Linked DNA regions of Homo sapiens: region 1 is linked to region 2. The links come from fine-mapping of genetic effects on gene expression. A gene starts in region 2. The other region holds a variant in brackets. All regions are shown on one strand. Distances are between the middles of the regions.

Region 1 (4,393 bases), 70 kb before region 2:
TTTGGTGTATAGATTAGGAGATGGACTGTAAAGAAGGGTGGTCATTTGAATAAATGATTCACAGGAGAAAACGGGTTTTACTGTAACAACCAAAGCCTACCAATATTGAGTTTCCTTATTCATTATGCATGTTATTAGGGTATTTTTAGCTCCAGCATTATGATTTTGCAAGTAAAATAAACTTGGGGTGAACGTTGATGCGGCCCTAAGTATCTTACTTCACTGAATTGGAATTCTACTCAGATTAGTCTTAGTAGATCTTTCTTTCTTCCCTGCTAATATCCGGGAAGCAAAGAAAAAGAGATTTCTTGAAGTATAACCTATTAGAACTTGCATAGAGGCATGGCGAGCAAAGGTTTTATAGAAATACCTGCAGATGTTTGGAGCTGTAAGAACACAGTGCTTGAGGATGCTGACCCTGTGGTGGGATATAACGTTGAGTGCCTTTTCCCAGACCCAATATCATTAAATCCTGCATAGACGGGGAACCCAGAAACCATCATCTCTCCATGCTCCAGAGCCCTGCAGAGACAACTGAGGTTTCTGGATGAGTTTATTTCTAAATACAATAGGGAAGAGGTTATTCACACAGAGATTGTCACCAATATGATTATAGGTCCCCAATTTTTTATTATACATGGCAATAGACCAGACACTCTGAAGATCTTATTATTTCCAACTTGATGTTTAGGATAGCATGGCAGATTGTATTTTCCAAAGATACCTACGGTAATATCTCCGAAACCATGTGGTCTTCTGCAATGGGACCTTGTCACGTCTCCCTTGAATGTGAGCAGGATCTGTGACTCCTTTAACAAACACAACATGGTGGAAATGATGCTGTGCCATCTGGCCTGGAAGCTTCCTGCCTCTTGGTTCCCTCTGACAAGCCAGTTGCCACTTTGGTGAGAGGCCCCAGTCACATTGAGAGGCTATGTGTGGTTGCCCTGGTCAACACCCAACTGCCAGCATCAACTGCCAGCTATGTAGCGAGCTCTCTTGGACATCTAGCCCAGTCAAAGCCTTGGGTGACTGTCACCCCAGCCAGCATCTGACGGCAACTTCAGAGAGAACCCAGATGAGAACTGCTCAGCTGAACCCCATCATCCAAAAAACTGTGAGAAATAGCAGTGAGTTGTTGTTTGAAGCCATGAAGTATTTTGAGCTGTAATCCATACACTATAAAATTTATCTTTTTCAGGTGTACAATATACAGAGCTATAACCATCACCATTCTCAGTTAAAGAACATTCTTGACCAGTCGCCGTGGCTCACGCCTGTAATTCCAACACTTTGGGAGGCCGAGGCGGGTGGATCACGAGGTCAAGAGATTAAGACCATTCTGGCCAACATGGTGAAACCCCGTCTCTACTAAAAATATAAATGTTAGCCGAGTGTGGTGGTGGGCACCTGTAGTCCCAGCTACTCGGCAAGATGAGACAGGAGAATCACTTGAACCTGGAAGGCAGAGGTGGCAGTGAGCTGAGATTGCACCACTGCACTCCAGCCTGGTGACAGAGCAAGACTCTGTCTCAAAAAAAAAAAAAAAAAAAGAACATTTTTATCACTTCCCAAAAATGAAACCCCCTGGCCAGCAGCAGTCACCCCCCACCTACCCACCCCCTAGTCTCTGGAAAGGACTAATCTACGATGCCCCTGAGGGTTTGCCTATTCTGGACACTTTACTGTTTGTTTTGTTTTGTTTTTGAGAAAGAGTCTTGCTCTGTCACCCAGGCTGGAGTGGAGTGTCATGATCTTGGCTCACTGCAACCTCTGCCTCCTGGGCTCAACTGATTCTCTTGCCTCAGCTTTCCAAGTAGCTGGGATTACAGAC[A/G]TGCCCCACCACACCCGGCTAATTTTTGTATTTTTAGTGCAGACATGGTCTCACCATGTTGGCGAAGCTGGTCTCAAACTCCCGACCTCAAGTGGTCTGCCTGCCTCAGCCTTCCAAAGTGCTGGGAACACAGGCGTGAGCTACTGCACCTGGCTGAATTCTTCTTATGTCACAGCCTACAGACAGGTTAATGACCAGTTTCTTCTTGGCCCACCACCATCCATCGTGTGGTCTCCCAGGCACCTTCTCATCCCAGAAAAATCCCATCTCCCACTTATATGGTTCACATATAAATTCCTCCACCAATCCTAATCTGAGTCTTTGATTTCAGTTCTGGGTAAATTTCATGTGTACTTTAATCTCGGCCCCTTTACATGGCTTGTTGATTTATGCGGCTTCTTGAAATGCTGTTTACAAAGTTAGACCCTTGAAAAGTGGCATAATTGGTTTGCATGTGAAAACTAAATCAAGATTCACCTCAAACCCAACAAAATAAATGAAGACAGAATGAAGCTTTTGCCTGGCATTTAGCAGGGCTGGCACAGATTTTTCCTCTATAGCACATGGAAGAGCAAGTGAACAGCATTCCCTGAAGTCTCACCAGGAGCTCTAAGCTCCAGAGTGAAGCCAAATCAGGCTGCTAACCCGACGGAGAAAACTTGGTGTGAATATACATATATATGTCACATATCTGTGTGAGCATATAATATGTATCTATATATAGTCAGCTAAAGCTGGCAATGAAAACAAAAACTCTACTTTCTTGGCTTACTCAAACTGCATAAAAATAGTGTTTAACAATCAAGGAAGAATGTGCAAGCCACTGCTGGTTAAAGGATGTGTGGCTATCCCATGAAAGAACCTATTAAGAATCCTACAGGCTTACTGCTGGCTTGGTTTGGAAGCCAGAGGCCAGCTCTCTGTCATGTTCTGTGCTAATTCAACAGGAATGACTTCAAGGAGGGTTTTATGTTCAGGCATGATTTATGTGGCAGGGAAGAATAAAGGGATTCCTGTAAGCTAGCCCAAGTTAGGGGATCTCTTTGAGTGATTAGTCCAATAAATACGTAGATGCTGGTGAGGCTGGGGTGAGGAGTCTGGGGAGAACAAATGCACACAAAATGCGTGTGCACACTCACGTGACGTGTGTTAAATGTATATGCAGATATACAAGCACTGCCAGCCATTGTATGGGTTTTTGAGAATCCATGGAGTTTGAGGCACTGGATAAAAATTTCTAGTGATTATAAGTTTAAATTACAATTTTAAAATTTAAAAATTTTTTTAAATCTATTTTTTATTTTTTTGAGACAAAGTCTGGCTCTATCGCCCAGGCCAGAGTGCAGTGGCACGATCTCAGCTCACTGCAACCTCTGCCTCCTGGGCTCAAGCGATCTTTCCCCCTTAGCCTCTAGAGAAGCTGGGACCACAGGCGTGTACCACCACACCCACCTAATTTTTGTATTTTTTTTGGTAGAGACAGGGTTTCACCATGTTGCCCACCCTAGTCTTGAACTCCTGAGCTCTAGCCATCCACCTGCCTTGGCCTCCCAACATGCTGAGATTACAGGAGGAAGCCACTGTGCCCGGCAATGTAAGTTATATTATAATTTTAAAATAACTTCATCTAATATTATTTGACATCTATATATTCAAATATAGACAAACATATATGACAAACATATTTATTTGACAAACATATATGAAGCATCTGTCATGTGCCAGGCACCATGGTTGGCAGTAGGTATACAAAGATGAATAAAGCAGACTTCCTGCCTTTGGGGAGCTTGCAATCCATTGAGCAGGACAAATAAAATTATTCTGCAATGTAATCAAGGGCTATAATGTTGGCATAAACCAAGTCTTTTTTTTTTTTTTTTTGATACAGGGTCTTGCTCCGTTGCTGAGGCTGCAGTGCAGTGGCATGATCTCAGCTCACTGTAACCTCTGTCTCTGGGTTCAAGTGATTCTTGTGCCTCAGCCTCCCAAGTAGCTGGAATTACAGGCGTAAGCCACTGTGCTCGGCCTAAACAAAGTCTTTTGGAATCATAGAAAATTGTTCCAGTTACTTTCACTGTGTAACATATTAGCCCAAGACTAACTGGCATAAAGCAATTATTTTATTATTCTCCTAGACTTGGTGGGTTAGGAATTTGGAGAGGGCACAGAAGAGACAGAGAAGAGATGACTTTTTTCTGTTTCATGATGTCTGGGACCCCAACTGGGAAGACACAATGAGCAGAACTGCTGAGTGGAGTGTGTGCACATGACTCCCCACAGAGCCAGGCTTCCTCACAGCATGGCAGCCTCAGGCTCCAAATGCGTGTATCCCAGCAAATAAGGCGAAAGCCACATCACTTCTTATGACTCAGCCTCATAAAACACTAGGATCACTTTTGCAATACTCTATTGCGTGAAGCAGCCTCAAGCCCACCCAGGTGCAAGGGGAAGGGGCATAGAATCTAACTTTCAATGGGGTGACTGTAAAATAAGTTTGTGGCCATTTAAAAAACTGCTATGAAAAGACAGTGCCTTAGTAATTTGGGGAATCGGGAAGTC
Region 2 (4,393 bases):
TGGATCGAGAAGGGGGCCTATTGATCTGTATTAAACCTCACATTCACAAAAAGTAAACTGAGGCCTTGCTGCTTCCTCCAGGTCAGGAAGAACCCAAGGCTAAGGGGAGACTCTAGCTACTTCTACTGGGGAATGTCACCTGAGGATATGAGACCTGCTGTTCAGGATAAGGTGTACATGCAGGCAGTACTTCATGAAAGATTTTAAACTTGATGCATTTTTATAGAAAAGAGAAGCACAATTATTCAATATTTGTGTTGGAGTTTTCAAACTTATTTTTCTATAAATGTATTTAGAAATAAATTTAGGATGAGTGAACATCACCAACCAGACTATTTGGCTAAAATGGGGGACTGCAGGTTCTAATTCATAAAAATGGTAATCATGTTGTTGCTACTGCTGTTGTCTGGATGTTTCAAGCCTTTCCTATTATTAAACCTCGGTTATGCAGCATCACAGGACAGAGCCAACTCTATACTGGGGGAAATCACCCCAGAGAGTATCCAGAATTAGAGCTGGAGCCATCTCAGGCTTGCAAGCAAGCACCAACCTTAAAGCCTACCCACAACTCAATGAAAAGTCAATGCATTTCTAAAGTCTATTAAGGTCTATAAAGAATGTAAACAATTGTTTTGTAATAAGCTTAATGAATAAAACAACTGAACCCACTAAGTGGTACTTATAGAAAAGAGGCTTGAGAATTTAGCTTTAGTTAGCAGAACTAGTTCCCACTAGAACAGGATTGTTTATCTTGCCCCTATTAGATACAATAATCCTAATAGTGTTAATGGTACTAAATGTTTTAGGAATAAACAACTGTAGAAACCACACTGGGACCTACAAATTGCACTTTCTGTGTAAGTAAAATGTCAGAAGAACTACACTGTTATAACTTACGGTCTCATGAAACGACATTTTTTTCCATCTTGTATTTCATCTTGAAGGATTTTACTATGTTCAGCATAGTAGCAACTGAAAAAAATGTGTTTCATCTAGAAACAAAAGTGAGAAAACTACAAAAAACACTGAGCTTCTGCAATGCTCGGTTTCCAAGTTTTTAACATTAAATCGAAGATAACGCAAAATAAAGATTGCCACAGTAACCAAACTTTTCTGCTAAGTATCCTTAAAAATAATGACAGTTCGATCGTATCTTAACTGTTTTCTACAATGTGAGCAGATAATACACCTACAAACCTTTTTTTGCTACCTTGCTTTATAAAGCTTGCAAGTTTTTTTTTCAGGGCTGGAGAAGACAGCTTAATGATCAAGCTTAAAATAAATCGGTTCTGCAATCACTCTGTATTTTAATCCGATGAAGCACGTTTCCCCATTCCACGCCATGAAGCAATTCGATGTCAACTTGTTATGGAGTCAAATGCGACAAACTCCGAGAGCTTCAGTAGCGAGGCGGCGGCTCGCAGCACCCACAGCCGCCCGCACTCCTGCGGCATCAGGACACGGCGCCCTCCCGACGCGGAACCCGCATTCACGTTCTCCGGAGCCCTGGCCAGCGCACGCTCCTCCCTGTCCGGGTAAACTGAGGCACAGCGATGAGAGAGATCCAGAGCCCAGCGAAAGCCCCCACGGCTGTTCGGCGTCCCCTTCCCCCACGACACCTAGGAGGCTCGCCGGCAGCTGGCAGTGGATTCCGCGCTCCTCGCCCTCGGAAGGTTACGGTTCGAGCCCAGGATGCGGCAGTCCCCAAACGGCCAGCCCCCGCCCCGCACGGATCTCGAAGCATCCTGCGACCCCCTGGAGCCCGCTGCCCGGACCCTGCGGCGTCTCGCAGCGCAGCCTCCGCCGCAGTCTCAGCCAGCCCAAACACCCGAAAGTTCGGCGGCCCCGGCGCCGACTCGGCCGCCGACCCGGTGCGGGGCTGGCTCCCACCCGTGCCCCTCCGCCCCGGCCCGCCGGGGGCCCCCGCTAACCTGACACCGCCGCGCCACTCAGGTGGCCGCCGTGCACCCCTCGCCATGGCCAGCCCGACAGCGGCCGCTGCGCCGCACTCTGCGCCGGACGCCCGGTAGCGCCTACTGCGGGCGAGCCGCCTCCGCCGGCGCCTCACAGCGTTGCGAGCTGCGCCGCCGGCTGCCGGGAGCGCGGAGCTTCCCACCTACAGGAGCCTGGGCCGGCCGGGGCCGAGCATGCCCAGTGCGGCTCGCCGGGCGGCGCGGAGGCGCGGGTGTAGCCGCCGGGTTTTCGCGGCAGCCGCGGGCGGGGGCAGCGGGGCGGGCGGTGCGGCGCGAGCCAGTCGGTGCTGCGGAGCGGCCCCGCGGAGGAGCCACCGGAGGCTGTAGTTGCCGGGGAGTCCCGCATTCAGTCCGCTCAGCCTCTGGGCCGGGCCTCGGCGGCCCCCAGAGCCCCACACCCGCAGGCCCAGGGCCTCCGCGGCAGCGCGGGACTCTCACTCCGCTCTCTCTCCCGCCCGGGGCTTCCACCGCAACTTCTGTGGGCGTCGCATCGCACGCGTGTTCAAGGACACCCAGGAAAAGGCTTCTTAGGGTCCCATCCTGGGGCGCTAAATGGGAACCAGTCAACCCACCCCCAAGCCTACCCTGTCTCCTTGCAATCAAATGCAATCACGAGCAAACCACCTTGCTTCCGAAAGCTTCTCAGGCCTTCCCGGGCGACTGCGCTGTAAGTCTTAAACGTCTCTTAAAGCAAAGTCCACAGATGGAAGAGTCTGGAAAAAAACCCAGCGGGCCGTTCCCTGGTGACTTTCTGAGTGGTGGGGTTCCAGGAATTTTTTTTTCATTTTCTTTAAAAATATTATTTGTAATTTCCACGTTTTTTCTAATGAACCATAAGTTGATTTTTTAATTAAAAAGTAGAGTACTCTAAAATTATTAAGTACCTACAGAAGTTTCGCTACACGATCCTGCAATGTTAGTGGCTTCTTCTCCTCCTTATCTCCCTTTTTTTTTTTTTTTTTTTAATTTTAAAAGAGAACAGAGACTCTCAATTTCTGGGGCGGGACCAGGCTCCTTCCCCCGGCTTTTTAGTGCCCGCCCTCTTGGCCACACCCCACTCCGGCCTTTTTACTCCCGTACCGCCCTCTTCCCGGTGGGTTGCTGCGAAAACCCGGAAAGGTGGACTTTCCACATTGACGCTCCCGGCGGCTCCGGCAGCCAGACTGGGCATGTTCCGCCGCCGGGTCAGGCATTGCTGTGCCAAGAGAGGAGCTTTAGCAACTCTCAGTCTCTCTGCTCCTCTCTGTTCCTGGCAAACTGGCAAAGTAGTGCCTCTGACCCCACGCCCCGAGGTCGGACCTGCAGAAGTGGGTCAGGACCCGACTGAGCATGCTCCGGGCAGTGCCAGGCTGCCGCACGCGGCTGCATCTGGTTGCCCAAGGTTGATGTAGCCGCGGTCTCTCGTCACGACATCGAAGCTCGGGAAACGGATGGAAGCAGGGCTCTAGAGAGGCACGATTGCATCGACACGTGGGCAGGTCGCCCATGCCAAGGGCCATGTTGGTGGGTGGGTGCGTGGGATCTGTCGTATGAGTGAGTCAAAGCCTGATTTTTTCCCCCAAAAAGATTGAAATGAGATATCATATTTTAACATTAGTTTTATGGCATCTTGAATAGCAACACATTTTAGCTCAAGGAATTTTTCAGCTGTCCTTTTGAGAAACGTAAATTTTCTTTGTTTTTAAGTATTTAATAAGCATTCTTTACAATTGCACCACAGCGCGAACTTTCCACCTGCTTTATTAATTATGACATTTGTGTCCCCACTATTAAAATATTCCGCAGTATTATATCCCGTTTTCTTCTCCAGCATTTCTGCATTCACTCTGACTCTATTTCCTCCCCTCCCCCATCTCTTTTAAATTCTCAGACAACCTGCAAAATGCACTCTTGCTATCTTAGAAACCACTTGAGGTCGGTGTGGGGAACTTGCTTTTAATTCTCATTTAGAGAAGACAGTACTGAAATGGAGAAAAGTCACAGGGAAAGTACTTTTACAGATTGTAGATTAGTAAAGAACCCAAAGAGAGCCTTTCATTGAGAGCAGAAAGGCGAATGGAATTCGCTGTTTTCTGTCTAAGGAGGAGGAGGATGGGCAGGCAGGTCAGCTGCCCAGTGGGGCTTGGTGTGATAGTGGGAGTCACCCTTCATTTGAACCTCTCTGCCTTGCCCAGCTCCAGTTCAGCTTCAGCGTGGTCAGAGACACTATCTCTATGGAAGGTCACTCCTGGAAGAATACATTTACTTAGCTGCTTCCACCATGGAATCCTAGCTTGTGCTGGAGTGTCCCCTTCATCCTCCTCCTGTGCTTTGAGAATCCATTGTTGCTGGTATGCCCTGAGCAGTGCCCTTGAACTTGCCCAGGTACCCCTTGACATCCACACCACAAATAGTCTAGCCTTACAAAGGTGGACAAGATG

Direction of the effects. Positions count from the first base shown, and alleles are read on the strand shown. Sizes are in standard deviations (SD) of each study's normalised expression.
In carriers of allele G in region 1, the expression in thyroid of the gene that starts at base 2,093 in region 2 tends to be lower than with A alone (moderate effect, 0.42 SD a copy in GTEx).

Evidence for each region. PIP is the estimated chance that this variant, and not a neighbour inherited with it, causes the effect.
Region 1: its variant is the best candidate, but not a certain one, in a credible set for the expression of MFAP3L in thyroid (GTEx, PIP 0.69).

What each region holds. Positions count from the first base shown.
Region 1 is chr4:169,953,882-169,958,274 of GRCh38, forward strand. The region is part of intron 1 of LINC02275 (long intergenic non-protein coding RNA 2275); the gene reads right to left. Among named protein-coding and RNA genes, the nearest start is that of LINC02275, 20 kb to the right of the region's middle. The variant A/G (reference allele first, on the strand shown) is at 1,835.
Region 2 is chr4:170,024,303-170,028,695 of GRCh38, forward strand. MFAP3L (microfibril associated protein 3 like) reads right to left here and starts at 2,093. Exons shown (of 3, transcript NM_021647.8): 1 at 1,932-2,093. RefSeq lists silencers at 1,901-1,990, 2,071-2,470, 2,929-2,998 and enhancers at 2,470-3,189, 3,179-3,318.